Homo sapiens: one gene and its partners. The protein of the gene in region 1 interacts with the protein of each later gene in a biochemical or structural test. Each region holds a gene or a part of one and is shown in the gene's direction. Other genes may lie near its edges. The genes, in order: PAK1, HACE1, LIMK1, TGFBR1, ARPC1B, ABI3 and TGFBR2.

Region 1 (3,500 bases):
TGGGAGGTTTGGTGATCCTGATAGTTAAGTTCCATGGCAGCTGGACCAGATGCATCTTGCTTTTCTTCTTTGCACAGAATGTGAAGGCTGTGTCTGAGACTCCTGCAGTGCCACCAGTTTCAGAAGATGAGGATGATGATGATGATGATGCTACCCCACCACCAGTGATTGCTCCACGCCCAGAGCACACAAAATCTGTGAGTCTTTGGGGACCTGGCCAGTTTTGTGATTTATTAGAGTAAGTGGGGAGAGGGAGGAGTTGGTGCTGATACCTAGAAGTTTAATATTCTGGTAGGCGTCCTTAGATTTTGGAGCTGGTGAAATCACTGAACTACCTTGACTAAAGGTACTTTCTGTATGATTAAAGACAAAAAATCATGTGTTTATTTATCATTGGTTTGCAGATAGTCCCAAAGTGTCCTAGGTAATTGATGTTTATACCAGTCCAGTCTCGGTTCTCCACAGATAGGACAGGAAGATATATAGGATTGATGCTACTTAGTGCAGGACTAACATAAATTATTCCAGTCTCCAGGGAAGCAACAAATTGTCTTGCTACAGATCTTTTCTTCTCTGTTAAATGTGCAGTGTTCAGCCTCTTAGAGCATTATTGATAATATTGAAAGACCCAAGAGAATATATAAATACATTAGTGCTATTAATATGCTGGGCATCAGGAGTGCATTTTGATGCCGGATGTTGGCAGTGATTTCTATTTAACTTCCTTTGAGGTTCCTGCATCTCTGAGAATAGCCATGGTCCCTCTAACCTTGCTTTGAAACATCTAGTCCCTGTGCCTTTTACTTAATTTGGCATCACTGAGCACTGACCTACCATCAGATGATACTCTACTAGTGTTTCTTTGTTTAGGTCTTTTACTAAGATGAGAGCTCCATAATGAAGGAACCATCTAGCACTTCTGTGATCATGAAAGAAAAAAAAAAGGGCTACCTCTGGAATACAGCATTCAGGGAGGTGTTCAAACAGAAATTGGTTGAATGACTATTGGAGATGCTGTGGAGGAAATTCAAAGGAATTATATGACCTATTAGGATGAGAACTTACAAACAGAATCTGTGGAATCATCTCTGTAGGTCACAAAGTTACCTCAAGGGAAAATGCGCTTCAAAATTGGAGAGTCGTTAACACTGATATGGTTTTTTTTGGTTTGTAGACATGTTCATTTAAAACATTTTTTTCCCCACTAAACCATGAACACCTCAAAAAGTAGAGGAAATCCATATGTATGTATTTCTAGTGCTTAACATAGTTCTTGGCACCTGCAGAGGTGGGTAAATATCAGAGGACAGTAAATATTGAATTAATTAATTAATTGATCTTCATAGCATTTCTTTCTAAAAAGGTATTGGTAATTCCTAATTTATAGAAGAAGCAGCTGAGATTTGGAGAGGTGAATTGATCTGCCCAGTCTCTTAGTAAACAAAAGAGCCAGGATTTGAAAGCAGGTAATTAACCCCAACTCCAGGTTGTTTTCCACCATAGCACAGTGGTATTTTTGTGTGTACAAACCTGTGCTAGGAGCCAGAGAAGGAGACTATTAAAGAAGGAAAAGGCAAGGTTTCTGTCTTCAAAGAGATATATCAGGACAGGCAAAAGAGGACAAGGCATGGAAGTACAGGTTTAGGTGCCTGGGATATAGTTTGTCTACAGGTACAAGAATAGAAAATTGAGAAATCATTATGCTAGAGTAGTAATCAGGAAGGAAGCCATTGCCTCTGATCTCAGCGTCTTGGCTTATTGCTGTTCCCACTACTGGAATGTTCTCTCCCATTTCCACCTATTAAAAGCCTGTCCAGTCAAAAGGTAGCATGGTCAAGCAGTCCAAGGTGCAGGATGTAGTTGGCTTTAGTCTCTGTGGAGCCATGGGTTTGAGTCCCACTGTTGCCAATGGCTTTGCATCATCGCAGATAAATGATCATCATAGATAAATGATCCTCTATCTTTGTAGAAACCTATCCGTCCTTCAGGATCCAGTTGCAGGATCCTGTTTGTTTATTTATTCCATCAAATATTTACCTGAATGCTTGCTTTCTTTTAGTAAGTGGTTAGATGGAGGAACTCACGGATGAATGACCCACATTCCCTGTCCTTATACTGTTTATGGACTATGCAAAAGATAATTGTGATATTTTTATGATAAAATCTGTTAAATACCTTGAAGCATCTCCTGGGGAAAGGAAGTATAATTTATGATCACTTCTGAACCTCAGTAGTATATAGCTTGCTTATTTCTTTATAACATGTATCACTTTCTGCCTTGTAGTTATGATTTTCTCACCTCCTTTATAAGAATGAGAGGTTGGGGCAGCATTTTGTACAGGGTGAGGCAACAAATAGATTCTCAGTAAATGTTTGTTATGTAAATGAATGAATAGGACATTTAATATTTTTAAAAGGTAAAATTTGAGTGCTTAATGTCTGCTGGGGATGAGTCTGATTACCTCACATATTAATCAGTTTACTCCTACAGCAACCCCAAAAGATAGTTATCATTATTATCACCATTTTATAGATGAGGAAACTGAAACACAGAGAAGTTAAGTAACCTGCCCAAAGTCATGCAGAAGGTAAGAATAATAAGAGTTGGGATTTAAGTTCAGGCAGTCAGGTTCCAGAGTCCATGTTCTAAATCATCACACTCTACTACCTCTTGATGAAGAACAAAAGTAGTTCCTTCCCTGCAAGGGTTCAGGATGTAAGGAGGGAGTAACTCAATAGAAGTTGGTGTTGTACTAGTAATGCAAAGTGCTATTTGCATTACTACAGGATATGTCTTTTAACTTGGGGAAGCATAAAATATTACAAATGAAGGGGATTCTTACCTAATAGAATTGTCTTCAACTAATTTCTTTTGTTACAGAATATTTCTTTTAGCTTGGGGAATACAGGATATTTCTTTTAGCTTGGGGAAGCATAAAATATTACAGATGAAGGGGATTCTTATCTAATAGAATTGTCTTTAACTAATTTCTTTTGATAGTTGTCTAGCCTCTATTGAATATCTTTAGTGCTGAGACTCTCACTTCTTTTGTTTACAGTGAGAGTAAGGAAGGCCATTTTACCCAGAATGGGTGGGCCTGGGCACAGAGGAGGAGTAATATAGATTTTGACATAAGAGAAAGGATGAGTTTATTGGGGTTTGCTCTGTGGATGTTCTAACCTCACATCTAGGAGAGGTTCCCCTATGCTAACAAAGGCTGGTCTTGCCAAAATTTTGCACTAATAATGCAGGTATACACACGGTCTGTGATTGAACCACTTCCTGTCACTCCAACTCGGGACGTGGCTACATCTCCCATTTCACCTACTGAAAATAACACCACTCCACCAGATGCTTTGACCCGGAATACTGAGAAGCAGAAGAAGAAGCCTAAAATGTCTGATGAGGAGATCTTGGAGAAATTACGTAAGGAATTTGTAGCTTTCTGAACCTTTCTTCGTTTTATGACTGGTCAAGCACAGAGATTTGCTGGTCGTAG
Region 2 (3,500 bases), on another chromosome or scaffold:
TAATCTCCTTCCATGGCGGTCTTTAAAAGAAAGATTATTTCTTTCCTTGAAATATTTTAAAGGTGAGTCTTTCTGTAGCACATGGTGTAGTTTGTAGCATTCTGTAATCATGTCAGATTCAAAAAGTGAGATAAACTTTTATATTTATTTGCAGAAGGATAGCTAATCATTCTCAATAAGAATATTTAAAATAGTGTAGGATGAAGGGATTGTTTAACCACTGTACCACTTATAAACTATTAATCTTTATTTGGGATTAAAAATATCCTAGCAGGTTTTTTTTTTTGTTTGTTTGTTTGTTTTTTTTTTTTTTTTGGAGACAGTATCTCACTCTTTCACCCAGGCTGGAGTATAGTGACATGATCACAGCTCACTGTAGCCTTGACTTCCGAGACTCAAGCAATCCTCCCCCTTCAACCTCCTCAGTAACTGGGACTACAAGTGCATGCCTGTGTACCCAGCTAGAATAATAATAGGAAATAGTTTATTCTCTCCTCATCTTTTTTTTTTTTAATAGAAAGGTGTTAATCTTTACTTGGAATTAAGAATTTGCTACTCAGTATTTTTTTTTTTTTTTTTGAGATGGAGTCTCGCCCTGTCACCCAGGCTGGAGTGCAGTGGTGTGATCTTAGCTCACTGCAACCTCTGCCTCCTGGGTTCAAGTGATCGTCCTGCCTCAGCCTCCCGAGTAGCTGGAATTATAGGTGTGTGCCACCATGTCTGGCTAATTTTTTGTATTTTTAGTAGAGATGGGATTTCAATTCACCATGTTGGCCAGGCTGATCTCGAATTCCTGACCTCAAGTGATCTACCCACCTCGGCCTCCCAAAGTGCTGGGATTACAGGCGTGAGCCACCATCTCCGGCCTGCTAGTCAGTATTTTAATAGAAGTTTGGTAATTGTATCTCTTGTTTTAAAAAAACACTAATTATTAGAAATGGATTGTGTCTGTAAGTATATGTATATACATAAATATGCCACATTTTGTAATTTCTTGTCAAAAATTATCCAAATTCTAGGAATTATATGTAATGAAAGGAGCACAGTAAAAAAGCTGTTCATTAGGTTCTTTAGGGATTCTCATTTTTTAATTGAAAAAAGACATTTGTTTAATTGAAAGTTGTTGACATTGATCATATTAATACAGAAAATGTTGAGTGATTATACTTAGGGGTTCTCATTTTTTAACTGAAAAAATCTTATTTGTTTAATTGAAAGTGGTTGACATTGATCATATTAATACAGTAAATGTTAAGGGTGATTATATATAGTAGTAATGTGTGCTTTTAAAACTAAACATTTGAAAATTAAAAGAAGAAAGATTGTGAATTTTTTGTTAGATTTAGTTTTTCCTTTTTATTACAAGGAATACATACATACAAATTAAATTATTGCCATAAATGAAGAAATTGTCATTTATGTAGCATTTGTATAATTTTATTACTTACCTTTAGGCATTACTATCACGTTAACTTGGGAAGATAGAAATGACTAGAGTAAATTTTCTCTTCTATAATATTTGTCTAGTTGTGTTTTGTTTTTTTTTTTTTAATCCTGTAGTTTAAGAATGATGTTTAAAAAACACTTTTGTTTCTCTCAGCCTCTGGAATTGCTTTGGCACTCGTTAGATGAATGGCTAGTTTTAATAGCCACAGAATTGATGAAAAACAAAAGAGACTCAACAGAGATCACTTCTATTTTACTGAAACAAAAAGGCCAAGATCAAGATGCTGCTTCCATTCCTCCATTTGAACCTCCAGGACCTGGGAGCTATGAAAATCTGTCCACTGGCACAAGGGAATCTAAACCAGATGCTCTTGCAGGGAGACAGGAAGCCAGTGCAGATTGTCAGGATGTTATTTCTATGACAGCTAACCGGCTAAGTGCTGTCATTCAAGCTTTTTACATGTGCTGTTCTTGTCAGATGCCTCCGGGGTAAGAAAGTTTTGGCTTATTATTTTTTTTTTCTCTGATAGATGATGAAAAGCAGTGATACTTTTGTAATTTCAAAAACAACAAATAATAATTTGTTGATTTAAAGTTTTCTCCTTGTTTTAAGATACTCATACTAATCTAGATCTAGTAGGGAATATTTAAATATTAAGCAGTATATATTATTACTTTGTAGAATGGTGAATGTCACCTTGTATAGGATCTCTTAATTATGTATTTGAAATGTGTAGAGCAGAAATGCACCAAATTTCAAGATTTTTAAAAAGTCACTTGTTGATATCGTCTGCTGATGAGAAGTTAGAATCATTTTACAAATTGGCTAGGCATACTTCAGTTTCCTAAACTTACAAAGAAGATTCAAAACCAAATTCTTTTTTTTTTGGTTTAGAAGCCAGTCCAGTTCAGTATATATTTATCAAGTTCGCTATATTATATCACAAACTTTTGCCTGTGTATTCTGATTGATGTTTTCCCCCCACAGAATGACTTCACCTCGTTTCATTGAATTTGTCTGCAAACATGATGAAGTTTTAAAATGCTTTGTTAATAGGTAAGCTTTCTGGGTTTGTGGAGTACCCTGCTAGCCTTTCCTCTCTTTACTTACAGTTTCATCTAAACAGAAAAAATACTATTTCTCGTACTATTCAAAATATGCTCAATAACAAATGAAACTTTAATAGATATGGATTATTATGTGTTTTTCTTCTGTTTCAGTGTCAGTGTATCTGAATTTGCATTTCACTTAATGCTACTCATTCTTCCTGTCCATTTAAACAAAATATTTTTCTTTTAGAAATCCCAAAATTATATTTGACCACTTTCACTTTCTCCTTGAATGTCCTGAGTTGATGTCAAGATTCATGCATATCATAAAAGCACAGGTAGAAATTTTTCTTCATCTTTTTATTCTATCTAATGAAATTAATTTCTAAAATTCTAATACTGTTTAGTGGAATAATTATTACACTTCAGACATTCTGTTGTAAGAGGAATGATTGCATGTTACTTTAATATGAGGAGTAAGTTTTCTTCAAGAAATATGTACTGAGTGCCTACTATGTACAGAGGTCTGTACAAAAACAACAGAACACATTGCCACATTTCCTGAAAGGAGCTTAATGAAACTCTTTAGTTCTATAAGGCTGATTGTCCTTTTGAAAAGGATTTTAGCCCCCAAATACATTTGGGAAATTACATAACATATGCCCTTTGGAAATTTATAAATCACATTGGCAGCATGTTAAAAGGCTTTGAGAAGCCCTTCAGTAAAAATAGTGATTTAGCTTTGTTAATCCTCCTAACTTATTTGACCTGACCACCTTTCCCCTACCAGATGTGTACCTGTTCATTCCATACATCTCATGTTACATGAAGCTAGCTGGAGGAAAGCTTGTTTTGCTCCTTACCAGCTATGTGAACTTTGGGCACGTTTCCTAATATCCTTGAGCCCTTGGTTTCTTCATCTACAAAATGGAGATAATGACAGCAGCCTCATAGAACTATTGTCCAGAATAAATTGTCAGGAATGACTGTGATATATGCTCAAT
Region 3 (3,500 bases), on another chromosome or scaffold:
CGGCTCACTGCAAGCCCCGCCTCCTGGGTTCACGCCATTCTCCTGCCTCAGCCTCCCGAGTAGCTGGGACTACAGGCACCTGCCACCATGCCCGGCTAATTTTTTTTTTATATTTAGTAGAGACAGGGTTTCACCATATTAGGCAGGATGGTCTCGATCTCCTGACCTCGTGATCCGCCCGTCTCGGCCTCCCAAAGTGCTGCGATTACAGGCATGAGCCACCACGCCCGGCCCTACCAAGTGCTAGCTTTCATTTGACGCAGTGAATGTTTCTTGTACACCTGGCAGGTGCCTGGCACTGCATAGGCACTGTTGAGATGTGAAGGTGGCCCTGGGGACAGAAAATTATACTGGGCTTGACTGTGTGTCTCCATCCCTTGACATCAGCCAAGCCAGCAGCTGCTTTACATACATGATGAGCAGACAGCTGCTTGAAAGAGATGAGGAAACTCCCAGACCAACGGCTCTTACCAGAGGGCCAAGGGAGGTCCCCACAGAGTCAGAGGCTGCAGCTGGTCCCTGAAATCCAGGCAGAATTTTAGAAATGAAGACAGTCAGCTGGGTGCAGCGGCTCATGCCTGTTATCTCAGCCACTTCGGAGGGCTGAGGTGAGAGGATTGCTTGAGCCCAGGAGGTGGAGGCTGCAGCAAGCTATGATGACACCATGCATTCCAGCTTGGGCGACAGAGCGAGACCCTATCTCTAAAATAAAAATGAAGAAGACAGTTAATGACGTCTCCTCCCTGTCTGCCTCACTGGGTAAGCATTCGCCCAGCCAACATCTGGAACATCCCAGTTCTGCAAAGAGCCACACCCTTCCCAGAAAGAGCCCAACTTGCCAAAGATTTACTTATTTGTTTTAAACTGGTTTTAGTTGACCGCTTTTCATTTTGTGTATAGCAGCGTTTTAAGGAAGGTCTAATTTATCCAGGCCACCTGCTGCTTTAGCAAACCAAGGGAGAGGATGTGAGATTCTAAGGAATTTACATATGTATGTCATATATATATATATATATATATAGACACACAATTTTTTTTTGAGACAGGGTCTTGCTCTGTCATACAGGCTGGAGTGCAGTGGCACAATCATAGCTCACTATAGCCTCAGATGCCTGTGCTCAAGCAATCCACTCACCTCGGCCTCCTGAGTAGTGAGACTACAGGCACACACCACCACACCCAGCTAATTTTTTAATTTTTTGTAGAGACTGAGTCTTGCTGTGTCGCCCAGGCTAGTCTTGAACTCCTGGGCTCAAGCAATCCTCCCACATTGGCTTCCCAAAGTGCTAGGATTACAAGCGTGAGCCACTATGCCTGGCTTATTTTTAAGGTTATATGCATGCAAAGCCTGTATCAATGAAAATATTTTCTTTGGTTTTTTTCAACTTTTCATCTTCGCATTTTGCAGATTTATAGAAAATTTGCTAAAATAATAAGTCCATTGAATACATACACACCCTTCACCAAGGTTCACCAATTCGTAACTGCCATATTTGGGAGTTATATGTGTGTCTCTCTATATATACATATATGGATACAGATACATATACATGTTTAGTGACTTGTTTATATTTGTACATACATGTACATGTTGTTATTTATTGATCGTTTGGGAGTAAGTTGCAGGGATCATTGACTCCCCCACAATTATGCTAGATATTCTCAAAAGAAGGACCTTCTCTTTTTTTTTTTTTTTTTTGGAGACAGGGTATCACTGTCATTGAGGCTGGAGTGCAGTGATGCGATCACAGCTCACTGCAGCCTCAACCTCCCAGGCTCAAGTGATCCTCCCACCTCTGCCTCCCAAGTAGCTGGGACTACAGGCACGGGCCACCACGCCTGGCTAGGCATTCTGTTATGTAATTATCAATTGTATCTTATAGTTCAGTGATCACATTTTGGAAATGTAACATTGATACCATTATCTAATACACAGACCATATTCAAATTTTGCCTATTGTCTCTATACTGAACTACTGAGCTGTCCTTTATAGCAATCTCCCCCTCATCCACAGTCCAGTCCATGATCAACATTGCATTTAATCGTCATGTGTCATCAGTATCTTTTTTTTTTTTTTTTTTGAGACGGAATTTTGCTCTTGTTGCCCAGGTTGGAGCGCAATGGCGCAATCTTGGCTTATTGCAACCTCCGCCTTTGGGCTTAAGTGATTCTCCTGCCTCAGCCTCCTAAGTAGCTGAGATTACAGGCGTGCACCATTATGCATGCCTAATTTTTGTATTTTTATTAGAGACGGGGTTTTACCATGTTGCCCTGGCTGGTCTTGAACTCCTGACCTCAAATGATCCACCCACCTCAGCCTCCCAAAATGCTGGGTTTACAGGCATGAGCCACTGCGTCTGGCCATTTCCTCAGCCTTTCATTGCCCTTCATGATCTTGACATTTTTGAAGTGTACAGGCCAGTCATTAAAGTAAAATGTTTTTCCTTTTTTTTTTTTTTTTTTTTAAAAAGAGACAGGGTCTCACTGTGTTGCCCAGGCTGGTCTCAGACTCCTAGGCTCAAGTGATCCTCCCGCCTCAGCTTCCCAAAGTGCTGGGATTACAGGCGTGAGCCATCGTACCTGCCCTCGCATTTGGGTTTGACTGATGTTTCCTCTTAGGGAGACAGGCTCTGCAGGTTTGGCCTGATACTGCATAAGTGATCCTCTGTCCTTCCGAGTGGATCTTGCCAGGAGACATATGATGTCAGTGTGCCCTTTGCTGAGGATGTTCACTTTGATTACTTGTTTTTTCTGTACTGTAAGGATTTTTTTCCCTTTGTCATCAATAAACCATTTGTGAGATTTGAGTCTGTAAATATCCTGTTCCCAAAAACCCTTCCCCAAATGATTTGAGCATCTATTGATGATTCTTGCCTGTAGCGATTATTACTAGGGTGGCTACCAAATGCTGAATTTCTAACTCTGTTCTTCCTTCTGCATTTGTTACTGTAAGGAAGAGCTTCTCCCCCATACGAGAATAGTCTTTTTGTTTGCTTGGTTGTTTTTTTGAGATAGGGTCTCACTCTGTTGCCCAGGCTGGAGTGCAGTGACATGATCATAGCTCACTGCAGCCTCGACCTCATGGGCTCAAGCGATCCTCCTGCCTCAGCCTCTCGAGTAGCTGGGACTACAGGCAGCACCACCATGCCTGGCTAATTTTTTATTTTTTGTAATGGTGAGGTCTCACTATTTTGCTCAGGCTGGTCTCGAACTCCTGACCTCAAGTGATCTTCCCACCTCAGCCTCCCAAATAGCTGGGATTACAGGAGTGTGCCACCATGCTCAGCTAATTTTCTGTAAAAAATGTCATAGAGATGGGGTCTTGCTATGCTGCCCAGGCTGGTCTCAAACCCCTAGTCTCAAGCAATCCTCCCACCTTGGCCTCCCAAAGTGCTGGGATTCCAGGCATGAGCCACCACACCTGGCCCTGTTTTTCTTAAAGTTCTCAGTCTCCTCTCTGCCTTACCCCCATCCCCTTTTCCATCTCCAGGACCTAGGG
Region 4 (2,290 bases), on another chromosome or scaffold:
TATTCTGAAAATGCCTTTCTCCTACCAAAATGTGCTTAAGCCACTAAAGAAATGAAGTGGCATTAATTAGTAAATTATTAGCATGGTCATGTTTGAATATTCTCACATCAAGCTTTTGCATTTTAATTGTGTTGTCTAAGTATACTTTTAAAAAATCAAGTGGCACTCTAGATGCTTATAGTACTTTAATATTTGTAGCATACAGACTAATTTTTCTAAAAGGGAAAGTCTGTCTAGCTGCTTGTGAAAAGTTATGTGGTATTCTGTAAGCCATTTTTTTCTTTATCTGTTCAAAGACTTATTTTTTAAGACATGAATTACATTTAAAATTAGAATATGGTTAATATTAAATAATAGGCCTTTTTCTAGGAAGGCGAAGGTAGTTAATAATTTGAATAGATAACAGATGTGCAAGAAAGTCACATTTGTTATGTATGTAGGAGTAAACGTTCGGTGGATCCTCTGTCTTTGTAACTGAGGTTAGAGCTAGTGTGGTTTTGAGGTCTCACTACACTTTGAGGAAGGCAGCTTTTAATTCAGTGTTTCCTTATGTGTGCGTACATTGCAACTGCTTACATGTAATTTATGTAATGCATTCAGTGCACCCTTGTTACTTGGGAGAGGTGGTAGCTAAAGAACATTCTGAGTATAGGTTTTTCTCCATTTACAGATGTCTTTGGTCAAATATTGAAAGCAAACTTGTCATGGTCTTCTTACATTAAGTTGAAACTAGCTTATAATAACTGGTTTTTACTTCCAATGCTATGAAGTCTCTGCAGGGCTTTTACAGTTTTCGAAGTCCTTTTATCACTGTGATCTTATTCTGAGGGGAGAAAAAACTATCATAGCTCTGAGGCAAGACTTCGACTTTATAGTGCTATCAGTTCCCCGATACAGGGTCAGAGTAACCCATACAGTATTTTGGTCAGGAAGAGAAAGTGGCCATTTACACTGAATGAGTTGCATTCTGATAATGTCTTATCTCTTATACGTAGAATAAATTTGAAAGACTATTTGATCTTAAAACCAAAGTAATTTTAGAATGAGTGACATATTACATAGGAATTTAGTGTCAATTTCATGTGTTTAAAAACATCATGGGAAAAATGCTTAGAGGTTACTATTTTGACTACAAAGTTGAGTTTTTTTCTGTAGTTACCATAATTTCATTGAAGCAAATGAATGAGTTTGAGAGGTTTGTTTTTATAGTTGTGTTGTATTACTTGTTTAATAATAATCTCTAATTCTGTGATCAGGTACTTTTTTTGTGGGGGTTTTTTTTTTGTTTTTTTTTTTTTGTTGTTGTTTTTGGGCCATTTCTAAGCCTACCAGATCTGCTTTATGAAATCCAGGGGACCAATGCATTTTATCACTAAAACTATTTTTATATAATTTTAAGAATATACCAAAAGTTGTCTGATTTAAAGTTGTAATACATGATTTCTCACTTTCATGTAAGGTTATCCACTTTTGCTGAAGATATTTTTTATTGAATCAAAGATTGAGTTACAATTATACTTTTCTTACCTAAGTGGATAAAATGTACTTTTGATGAATCAGGGAATTTTTTTAAAGTTGGAGTTTAGTTCTAAATTGACTTTACGTATTACTGCAGTTAATTCCTTTTTTGGCTAGGGATGGTTTGATAAACCACAATTGGCTGATATTGAAAATGAAAGAAACTTAAAAGGTGGGATGGATCATGATTACTGTCGATAACTGCAGATAAATTTGATTAGAGTAATAATTTTGTCATTTAAAAACACAGTTGTTTATACTGCCCATCCTAGGATGCTCACCTTCCAAGATTCAACGTGGCTAAAACATCTTCTGGTAAATTGTGCGTCCATATTCATTTTGTCAGTAGCCAGGAGAAATGGGGATGGGGGAAATACGACTTAGTGAGGCATAGACATCCCTGGTCCATCCTTTCTGTCTCCAGCTGTTTCTTGGAACCTGCTCTCCTGCTTGCTGGTCCCTGACGCAGAGACCGTTGCCTCCCCCACAGCCGTTTGACTGAAGGCTGCTCTGGAGACCTAGAGTAAAACGGCTGATGGAAGTTGTGGGACCCACTTCCATTTCCTTCAGTCATTAGAGGTGGAAGGGAGGGGTCTCCAAGTTTGGAGATTGAGCAGATGAGGCTTGGGATGCCCCTGCTTTGACTTCAGCCATGGATGAGGAGTGGGATGGCAGCAAGGTGGCTCCTGTGGCAGTGGAGTTGTGCCAGAAACAGTGGCCAGTTGTATCGCCTATAAGACAGGGTAAGGTCTGAAGAGCTGAGCCTGTAATT
Region 5 (3,500 bases), on another chromosome or scaffold:
GTTCAAGTGATTCTCTTGCCTCGACCCCCCGAGCAGCTGGGATTACAAGTGCCCACCACCAAGCCCAGATAAATTTTGTATTTTTAGTAGAGAGGGTTTTACCATGTTGGGCAGGCTGGTCTCAAACTCCTGACCTCAGGTGATCCACCTGCCTCCGCCTCCCAAAGTCTGGGATTACAGGTGTGAGCCACCGCACCCGTCGGTTGATAGGTCTTTTCTAATATTAATAATTACGTAGCATCTCAACATGTTAATGTCATAATTTACTCTTTCCATATTGTCACCTGGGTTTTTCCACACTGTCACCATTATAAAGACAGCTATTATAAACATGTTTGCTTTATTTTTTAGATGAGGTTTCACTCTGTCACCCAGGCTGGAGTACAGTGACGAGATCTCGGCTCACTGCAACCTCCACCTTCCCAGCTCAAGGAATCCTCCAGCCTCAGCCCCTCAGATAGCCAGGACTACAGGCGTACAGCATCACATCCCGCTAATTTTTTTTTTTTTTTTGGTAGTTTTTATAGACACAGGGTTTTGCCATGTTGCCCAGGCTGGTCTCCGAACTCCTGGACTCAAGTGATCCACCTGGCTTGGCCTCCCAAAATGGTGGGATTACAGGCGTGAGCCATGGCACCCCACCTGTTTGCTTTTAAAAAAGAAAAATGGGGCCAGGCGTGGTGGCTCACACCTGTAATCCCAGCACTTTGGGAGGCCGAGGCGGGTGGATCACAAGGTCAGGAGTTCGAGACCAGCCTGTCCAACATGGTGAAACCCCATCTCTACTAAAAACAAAAACAAAAATTAGCTGGGCGTGGTGGTGGGCACCTGTAGTTCCACCTACTGGGGAGGCTGAGACAGGAGAATTGCTTGAACCTGGGAGGCGGAGGTTGCAGTGAGCCGAGAATGCACCACTACACTCCAGCCTGGGCGACAGAATGAGACTACATCTCAAAAATAAAAAAGAAAAAGAAAGAAAAATGTGTTGCTGTTTTCTTAGGACCAAATGGGTGTATGTGACCAAAGAATGTTAATTTTCTTTTTCTTTTTTTTTTTTTTTTTTTTGAGATGGAGTCTTGCTCTGTCCTCCAGGCTGGAGTGCAGTGGCGCAATCTCGGCTCACTGCAAGCTCCGCCTTCCGGGTTCACGCCATTCTCTTGCCTCAGCCTCCCGAGTAGCTGGGACTACAGGCGCCCGCCACCACGCCCGGCTTAATTTTTTGTATTTTTAGTAGAGACGGGGTTTCACCGTTTTAGCCAGGATGGTCTCGATCTCCTGACCTCGTGATCCACCCACCTCGGCCTCCCAAAGTGCTGGGAGTATAGGCGTGAGCCACCACACCTGGCCAGAATGCTAATTTTCAAGTTCCTGTTAGTGTTATTCTGTTCTATTAATATTTGGTCCCACCCACTTGTTGAATTGAGTGCCCTTCAGAAGAATTAAACCAATTAGCAACAAATGACAATTTCTCCACAGCTCTGCTAGCATTGAATTTTGTGTGTTTTTGTTTTGTTTGGATGACTAACCGGTGCTTTAATGGTACCTTACGATTGTTTTCATGTGTGTTTCTTGACTTCACTCTGCGTGGTTGGTAAGACTTCAAGAGCAGAGCTGGAGAGGGAAGGATAGGGGTAGGAAGGGCTCTGACCCAGCATAGGAAGTTGAGTAACCGCTTAGCACGGTGCAAATTAGCCTGCTGGCTGCTCTATCCAAGAACTGCCTGAGCTGGGTGGGGACTTCCCAGAGCGCCTGTAATGCTGAGATCTTTCCTCCAGGCAACTCCTCCTTGGTTTAGCCTCTGATACAGCCAAACCTCTGGATTCAGGGAAACCTAAGGAAGCCAGGCAAGAAGGGTCCCGCAGCCTGTGCCTAGTCTAGCCCCAGCCTCATCTGGATTAAGATGGGAGGGAAATATTGGCTGAGGGCACCCAGCCAGTATGAAGACAGCTAGAATGTAAACCCAGCACAGTAAGGGAGAGAGTATCAAGGCCCAGGACTTTAGAGTGCCTCACCACCACCACCCCGCCGCTGGGCAGCCTGAGGCTTTCTTTGCCTGGCACCACCATGCCTGGCTAATTTTTTTTTTTTTTTTCCAAGTGGAGACGGGGTTTTGCCATGTTGGCCAGGATGGTCTCAAACTCCTGACCTCAAGTGATCCACCCACCTCGGCCTCCGAAAGTGCTGGGATTACAGGCGTGAGCCACTGTGCCCGGCTATCCCCTCCTCTCTCTGGTTTCTTAACATCAAACAGGCCCACAGTGCTGGCTCACAGGGCCACAGTGATAGTGGGTTGGTGTCCTGGATCCCTCCCCCAGGAGCCATCACTGAGACCTTATGCTGTCAACACTGGTGGGTGAAGCAGCCCTCGTATTTTTCTCCTGAGACATCCAGAGCAGGGTAATTGGCAGGCGGGGGTGAGCACACGCTGGCTCACGCAGGCTTGGTAGGTGAGAGGTTTTCCTGAGGATGATGAAGTTGGAGTGTCCCCGGCTAGAATCCCTGAGGCAGGAGACTGGAGCCCTGTGGCAGCATTGGCTGAGAGAAGCCACTCCCTTTTTGCTCTCCCACTTCCTCACTGGTAAGATGTGGGGGTTGGGGAGTTATCGCAGAGGCGCTTTGGGTTTCAGCTGCTTTGCAGAAGTTATGGAAAAAGGGAAATGAGTCTTCCTGTCTCTCGCCCCCTTAACACTTCTTTGCCCCATTTAAGGGGTTTGTTCAACAGACTAGGAAGTATTTCTGCTAATTCATGCTGAAGTGTGATTGGCTGATAGGTGTGGTCTCAACCTCCCTCCTCTGCCAGTCACTAGTGTACCACTGTGGCCATCTTTTCCAGCCCCTCCTCTGCCCCTTGAGTATGTCTAGGTCCTAGAAACAGTGGTCAGGGCTCTTCAAGTCCTCTCGGTTGCCCTTGCCCACTGGCACACGTGGGGGTTGCTGTCTTCAGCAGAGCCAGCCACTCCGTCTTGACAGCCAGGGCAGAGATGTGGCTGGGCACACAGCAAGAATGTGACCACTGATGCTGGGATGTCAGAGTCTGTGCATCAACCCAGGGTTCTGAGTCTGGGCTCTCCCACCCTCATCCCCGGAGGTTCCTTCAGTCTGGGCCTCCTGGGGCTGAAAGGGAGGGAAAAATTGGCCTCAGCTGGAGTCCTGGGGCCAACCAGAGCCTGGGTGGAGTGTGAAAGTGGGCTTCTGGCCTTCACCCTGCCCCTGCCCTGCTGGTGACCTTGGACCATGGGGGTTGTCGGGGTGTAGATGAGCACCGTGAATCAGTCACAGGCCTTGAGCTTCTCTCTGCACAGTGCTGGCATCAGATGTGGGTGGTGATGTCCCAGCCTGGGAACACAGGAAACGCTCAGGGAAACCCCCATCAGACCTGCTGACATGGCTGAGGGCGCTGAGATGGTGCTTCCGGGGCCCTCACCTTACACAAAGAGGCCTTATAAGGAGAGAGAGGCTGCAGAGGCAGCCCCAGTGGGTGCCGGGTGCTTGTTCTGGGT
Region 6 (3,019 bases), on another chromosome or scaffold:
GGTGGCGCAAGCCTGTAATACCAGCTACTCGGGAGGCTGAGGCAGGAGAATCGCTTGAACCTGGGAGGCGGAGTTTGCAGTGAGCCGAGATCGCGCCATTGCACTCCAGCCTGGGCAACAAGAGCGAAACTCCATCTCAAAATAATAATAATAATAATAATAATAATAATAATAATAATAATAATAAACTTAATCCTAAGGGCCAGGCGGGGTGGCTCACGGCCGTAATCCCGGCACTTTGGGGGGCTGTGGAGGGCGGATCACTTGAGGTCAGGAGTTTGAGACCAACCTGGCCAACATGACTAAAAATACAAAAATTAGCCTGGCGTGGTGGTGCGTGCCTGTAATTCCAGCTACTCAGGAGGCTGAGGCAGGAGGATCACTTGAACCCAGGAGGCAGAGGCTGCAGTGAGCCGAGATCACCACACTGCACTCCAGCCTGGGTGACAGAGGGAGATTCCCTCTCAAAAAAATAAAATAAAGGCCGGGTGTGGTGGCTCACGCCTGTAATCCCAGCACTTTGGGAGGCTGAGGTGGGCGGATCACGAGGTCAGGAGATCGAGACCATCCTGGCTAACATGGTGAAACCCTGTCTCTACTAAAAATACAAAAAAATTAGCCGGGCGTGGTGGCGGGCGCCTGTAGTCCCAGCTACTCGGGAGGCTGAGGCAGGAGAATGGCGTGAACCCGGGAGGTGGGGCTTGCAGTGAGCCGAGATCGTGCCACTGCAATCCAGCCTGGGCGACACAGCGAGACTCGGTCTCAAAAAAAAATAAAACAAAATAAACTTAATCCTGAGAGGGTCTTTACCACTCTCCGTTAACAGATGAAGCCACTGACGCTGAGGTTCAGTGACTTGCCCAAGAGCCACCCAGCTAATAAGAGGCAGAGTCTGACCGTCCTCTACTGCTGGATCTTTCAGGGTTTACTGAGCACTTAACTATGTGCTAGCAGCACTGTGGGAAGACCAGGACAGGAGAGGGCTGGAGGAAGATTGCATGAAATGGGTGCATTCTTTTTTTCTTTTGAGATGGAGTCTCACTCTGTCATCCAGGCTGGATGGAGTGTGTTGGCAAGATCTCAGCTCACTGCAACCTCCACCTCCTGGGTTAAGCCATTCTCCTGCCTCAGTCTCCCGAGTAGCTGGAATTACAGGCGTGTGCCACCATGCCCGGCTAATTTTTGTATTTTTAGTAGAGACAGGGTTTCACCATGTTGGCCAGGCTGGTCTCGAACTCCTGGCCTCAGGTGATCTGCCCGCCTTGGCCTCCCAACGTGCCTCGCTGAGATGGGTGGATTCTGGGGTCCAGCTCTTGAGCAGTTCCCTGACACACTGAAGGAGCTTCCTGTGCCACACTTACAGCCTTTCTGCTTTTCCCCCAAGACGAAGAGCTGCCCCTGCCACTGGACCTGCCTCCTCCTCCACCCCTGGATGGAGATGAATTGGGGCTGCCTCCACCCCCACCAGGATTTGGGCCTGATGAGCCCAGCTGGGTGCCTGCCTCATACTTGGAGAAAGGTACCTGACTTCTGGGACTGAGGGGCACCGGATCCCACTTCCTCTGTTGCCCTGATCCCCATTCTCCTCCCTCTGCAAAGGTGTGAATCTATCCCCCGGGCCCCCCACACAATTTTTCTGACGAACTGACAGAACTGGGGAGAGGGCAGCTGGCCTGGTATTAAATATTAACTAAGCTGGGGAGGGGTCCTGAAGGCTTGCAAGAAGGCCCCCAAGATGGCCCCTAGAGTCTAGTACTTGAGACCGTGCATCCCCATGGTGGTGGGGGGTGAGGGGGAGAGGGCAAGAGGCATTATCTCACGGCACCCTCTTCTCTTGCCCTGCAGTGGTGACACTGTACCCATACACCAGCCAGAAGGACAATGAGCTCTCCTTCTCTGAGGGCACTGTCATCTGTGTCACTCGCCGCTACTCCGATGGCTGGTGCGAGGGCGTCAGCTCAGAGGGGACTGGATTCTTCCCTGGGAACTATGTGGAGCCCAGCTGCTGACAGCCCAGGGCTCTCTGGGCAGCTGATGTCTGCACTGAGTGGGTTTCATGAGCCCCAAGCCAAAACCAGCTCCAGTCACAGCTGGACTGGGTCTGCCCACCTCTTGGGCTGTGAGCTGTGTTCTGTCCTTCCTCCCATCGGAGGGAGAAGGGGTCCTGGGGAGAGAGAATTTATCCAGAGGCCTGCTGCAGATGGGGAAGAGCTGGAAACCAAGAAGTTTGTCAACAGAGGACCCCTACTCCATGCAGGACAGGGTCTCCTGCTGCAAGTCCCAACTTTGAATAAAACAGATGATGTCCTGTGACTGCCCCACAGAGATAAGGGGCCAGGAGGGATTGAAAGGCATCCCAGTTCTAAGGCTGCTGCTAATTACAGCCCCCAACCTCCAACCCACCAGCTGACCTAGAAGCAGCATCTTCCCATTTCCTCAGTACCCACAAAGTGCAGCCCACATTGGACCCCAGACACCCCTCTGCAGCCATTGACTGCAACTTGTTCTTTTGCCCATTGCTTGCTGTGTGTGTGGTGTGTTCATATGTGGCTGGGCACTTGCCCAAGAGTGGGAACGATCTCCATGACTTAAGCGGGGCTCTCCGAGAGCACCTCACTGTCAACTCTGAGACTGTCGCGAGAGAGATCTCAGTCATTTCTTCCCCCTTCACCTCCTTTATAGTTGTAAAACACCAGAGGAAGGAGGGGCTTGGGTTTCGCTGGTTCTGCTTAAAAACATGGCTTTCTGTTCCATGGGGGGTGGGGGGGATGCGTGGAAGGCCCAGCCCGCGAGGGTGACTTTGGTGAAGTCCCTGGTCTCTTGCTGCATAGACGAGGCTGGGATGCAAGGAGACACCGTCACTCTCTGCGAGGTTACTGGCTGTCCGGACCCGAGCCGGACGGTGCGCTACCTCGTACCACCACCAGGAGGCGATTGTTCCTCTGGCTTTTCCTTTGGGGGTGCTAGAAGGGAGTGCGGGGGTCGGGAGGCAAGAGAGTGTGGACAGCACAGAAATAGT
Region 7 (3,500 bases), on another chromosome or scaffold:
CCTATGCTCAGCTATATCCAAAAAGAGTTTGAAAAGTTAGCTGTGCCTGGCTGTTACAGGAGTGAGTGGAGAAAGCAGTTAAGGGCTTTACCAGGTCTCAAGTATTACAGTTGTTTTCTCTCTGTGATGTTAGTTCTCTCAGTAGCTAAGAGGTAGAAAACCGGAGGCTCTGGAAGAGCTGCCCAATAATTATAGAGCAGCTTTCTTTCATGGCTCACAGTTCCTTCTTAGGCCTCTATAAGCGTCACAAGGAAAAGAGACCATGCCTTTCTGTGGGCACAGCATACCTTCGTTTTATTACCCAAACCAAAAACAACCTACACACACACACACACACACACACACACACACACACACACACAAAACTGTGGGGGCAGGGAGGAAGGTGTTCTTGTTCCATGACTACAGCTGATTTGAAGACTGCCAAGTAGCTTTGGGGTTAAAGATGGGTAGATTTCCAAATTATACATCATTTGTTGTATGATCATGCCAACTTTCATTTAGTTTCATTTGGTGTCCTGATAGCCACCCTCAACCAATTATTCTGCTTGTCACTCTTCCTGTCACAGCAGGGACCAACTTAGCAAAGCCTTGCTCCTCTTGTGTCTTTCGGAATTCTAGTTTAAGAACCCTTGAGCCCCTTCACAAGCAGACACATGTACCTCCACTGGAGTCAACTCTGGGCTGCATGGATGTTGACACTGGCACCATTCCTGCCTGGATTGTCCTAACCCATACCCTTGCCCTTATCCCTTTGTCAACATATTGTCCTTTAATGTCCTTGACTTAAGCACTAAAAAAGTGGTATTGGTCAAAGTTGCTCTTTCTCTCATGGGGATGGCCCCGCATCTTTTATAGGTGCAAGCTGTGTCTTAGCTGCTTCTTGCTTCTAGCCTGCCTTCCGTTTTCCTTGCTGTGAGCAGTGAGCCTTTGTGCATGGGGCAGGGAGGATTAGGGGAAAATTGGTGAGTGAGTACATGCATGCATTGGCTCATGTGTGCACTCAGAATCTTCATAGAAGATTACTCTAGCAAAACTGACTGGACCAGATTAGCCCTTCCTTCCGCTCCCTCTCTAGACAGAGAGAATGCGATTCAAGACAACAGGTATTTTGCATCTAAAAAGGACAGAGGTGAAAGGGTGGATGTCAGACTAGCCTTGTTGGACAGTCATCCAAGATAGTATGTTCATGAGGGAGCAGAGGGAGGTAGATAGAGAGGTGATACCCTTTTCCAAGAGAGCCAAAATGTTCTTTTGTTCAATTATAATAGTGGGCATTAATCATGTTGTTTAAAAATCTAATGTACACTGACGGCCAATTGAGCATTTCCTAGGGCCCAAGGAAAATGCTATGTGAGAAATTCTCTGAGCCCTGGGCTAAATTAGTCTTCAAATATGTGCTATGAAGTGATACTGTCAAAGTAGTTAGTTTATGACAGCATAAAATATTTCATTGAACTGTAAATGAAGAACACCCTGACATCCCTTTCCATTTCTTTTATTTATTTGTTTTTTTTGTTTGTTTGTTTTTTCTGAATTGCTCCTTTCTGTAATTTGGGAAAGACTGCAGTTCTTTATCTGCGATGTTTCTTCCCGTTTTTCTCAGCAGAACCAGCTGTTGACAAGGAGTATACCCTTTACACGCAATGCTCTGGGGCCCAGCAAACAAAAAAAAGAGGAACTGTGACTATTTCCCCAGGCATGCTCTTTGAAAACAGTATAGCTAGACAGGACAGATTTTGCCACTTAAACTAGGGGTGTGATGTGAGGTTTGCATTACATTCAGGATGGAAGATTTAAAATTATCCTGAGTACCTAGGAATGTTCTTTTTTTCCATGTCTTCCCCTTTAATGATTTAATTAAGACTTAAATATGTAAAGTTCTCCACCAGGACTGCCCCGTGGAACGCTGTCTGCTCCAGGTGATGTTTATAATCACAAATGGGTTCCAAGAATAAACAAAGGAAAAACAGAAAAGAGTAGAAAAGCATAGGAGACTATAGGACAGCCTGCGAATGCTGGAGAACAGGAACCAGCTGCCGTTGTTAGGAACAACTTCATGAAGGAAAAGTATTCCAGATTGCCTTTCTGTCTGGAGGCCATATTATTCATTTATTCTCTTTCTCTCTCTCCCTCTCCCCTCGCTTCCAATGAATCTCTTCACTCTAGGAGAAAGAATGACGAGAACATAACACTAGAGACAGTTTGCCATGACCCCAAGCTCCCCTACCATGACTTTATTCTGGAAGATGCTGCTTCTCCAAAGTGCATTATGAAGGAAAAAAAAAAGCCTGGTGAGACTTTCTTCATGTGTTCCTGTAGCTCTGATGAGTGCAATGACAACATCATCTTCTCAGAAGGTGAGTTTTCTTCTCTTAAGGGTGTGGGACCTGAGATCTGTGCCAATTTTTTGTATCCTTGGTCTGCAGTGTCATAGAGCACATTCCTCCTGTGGTGGATTGCATACAGTGGATTAGGAGCTCATTCAGCTGGTGGAAAGAGGGGCTTGGGGAGTAGCAGGGTTTGTTCTGGTTCTCATCAAATATGGTTGACTGGGGCAAACATTATTATTTGTCTTTGACAAATAGTTTCTTTCACCTAGAGCAGTGTTTCTCAAAGTGCGGCCTCTTGAGCAGCCAGCATCAGTATCACCTGGGAACCTGTTATAAATGCAGATTCTCAGGCCCCACTAAATGAGAAACATAGAGGGTGAACCCCAGCTATCTGTATTTTAACAAGCCCTCCCAGTAATTCTGTGCAGCTAAAATTTGGTAACTATTGTTCTAAAGATTTGGATGGGGTTGTTTAATCTTGGAGGAGGACTTTCTTTATAACTGATGTTGTTTCTTGTACATAGTCCCAGGATTTGTCTTTAGGGTACTTGTCATCGATCCCATTTGAGAGAAACATTGCAATACAGAGAGGAAATAATAAGCCAAAGTTTACCCCTAGAGCCAGGAGAAGAGTAGATTAGATACTAGCCTCCATCTTTGAAGTTCAGCGTTTACTCAGCTTGAAAGGAAGGCATACACTATTCCCTCAATTTTTAATAAGAAGAGAATTCAGTGGTTTTTAATTACAAAAGTAGTATATGCTCGTCATCAAAAATTTCAAACAATCCAACAGTGTGTGAAAATTAAAAATGAAAGTACATTTTCGTCCTCCCCTCACTCCCAATGCAACAGATCATCTGTATTGACAATGTATTAGATGCACACACGTCTCTATCATTCATTCATATTATCTCCCACTCCATCCTCTCTCCCAATCTCTCCCTGTCTTCCTTTCTCTTTCCCTCCTTTCATCCATCTGTCCATCCTTCCATCCACTCATCCATCTTTCAGTACAACTATCTGATCATACTATAAATATTATTTTGCAACACTTTTTTATACCCAACCACTTTTACAATTCCTTCTAAACAAGATAGAACACATAGATATACTGTACATCTTTTAATTTAGTCTCGAATTTCATATTATCTCCCACGATGGATCTTA

The links.
Region 2: of the proteins of PAK1 (region 1) and HACE1, one has a biochemical effect on the other in vitro, tested with the Homo sapiens proteins (one study listed by BioGRID).
Region 3: the proteins of PAK1 (region 1) and LIMK1 form a complex in vitro, tested with the Homo sapiens proteins (one study listed by BioGRID and IntAct).
Region 4: the proteins of PAK1 (region 1) and TGFBR1 form a complex in vitro, tested with the Homo sapiens proteins (one study listed by BioGRID).
Region 5: the proteins of PAK1 (region 1) and ARPC1B form a complex in vitro, tested with the Homo sapiens proteins (one study listed by BioGRID).
Region 6: the proteins of PAK1 (region 1) and ABI3 form a complex in vitro, tested with the Homo sapiens proteins (one study listed by BioGRID).
Region 7: the proteins of PAK1 (region 1) and TGFBR2 form a complex in vitro, tested with the Homo sapiens proteins (one study listed by BioGRID).

Annotation. Positions count from the first base shown.
Region 1 is NC_000011.10:77,355,595-77,359,094, reverse strand, and holds part of PAK1 (serine/threonine-protein kinase PAK 1), read left to right. Parts: intron 1-77; coding exon 78-197; intron 198-3,252; coding exon 3,253-3,427; intron 3,428-3,500. UniProt on the Homo sapiens protein: Protein kinase involved in intracellular signaling pathways downstream of integrins and receptor-type kinases that plays an important role in cytoskeleton dynamics, in cell adhesion, migration, proliferation, apoptosis, mitosis, and in vesicle-mediated transport processes.
Region 2 is NC_000006.12:104,783,420-104,786,919, reverse strand, and holds part of HACE1 (E3 ubiquitin-protein ligase HACE1), read left to right. Parts: intron 1-1,600; coding exon 1,601-1,935; intron 1,936-2,434; coding exon 2,435-2,503; intron 2,504-2,746; coding exon 2,747-2,834; intron 2,835-3,500. UniProt on the Homo sapiens protein: E3 ubiquitin-protein ligase involved in Golgi membrane fusion and regulation of small GTPases. Acts as a regulator of Golgi membrane dynamics during the cell cycle: recruited to Golgi membrane by Rab proteins and regulates postmitotic Golgi membrane fusion.
Region 3 is NC_000007.14:74,100,804-74,104,303, forward strand, and holds part of LIMK1 (LIM domain kinase 1), read left to right. Parts: intron 1-3,500. UniProt on the Homo sapiens protein: Serine/threonine-protein kinase that plays an essential role in the regulation of actin filament dynamics. Acts downstream of several Rho family GTPase signal transduction pathways.
Region 4 is NC_000009.12:99,150,113-99,152,402, forward strand, and holds part of TGFBR1 (TGF-beta receptor type-1 isoform 1 precursor), read left to right. Parts: 3' UTR 1-2,290. UniProt on the Homo sapiens protein: Transmembrane serine/threonine kinase forming with the TGF-beta type II serine/threonine kinase receptor, TGFBR2, the non-promiscuous receptor for the TGF-beta cytokines TGFB1, TGFB2 and TGFB3.
Region 5 is NC_000007.14:99,377,730-99,381,229, forward strand, and holds part of ARPC1B (actin-related protein 2/3 complex subunit 1B), read left to right. Parts: intron 1-3,500. UniProt on the Homo sapiens protein: Component of the Arp2/3 complex, a multiprotein complex that mediates actin polymerization upon stimulation by nucleation-promoting factor (NPF).
Region 6 is NC_000017.11:49,220,707-49,223,725, forward strand, and holds the end of ABI3 (ABI gene family member 3), read left to right. Parts: intron 1-1,363; coding exon of another isoform or gene 1,364-1,384; coding exon 1,385-1,519; intron 1,520-1,845; coding exon 1,846-2,009; 3' UTR 2,010-2,519; downstream 2,520-3,019. UniProt on the Homo sapiens protein: May inhibit tumor metastasis. In vitro, reduces cell motility.
Region 7 is NC_000003.12:30,648,101-30,651,600, forward strand, and holds part of TGFBR2 (TGF-beta receptor type-2 isoform B precursor), read left to right. Parts: intron 1-2,169; coding exon 2,170-2,360; intron 2,361-3,500. UniProt on the Homo sapiens protein: Transmembrane serine/threonine kinase forming with the TGF-beta type I serine/threonine kinase receptor, TGFBR1, the non-promiscuous receptor for the TGF-beta cytokines TGFB1, TGFB2 and TGFB3.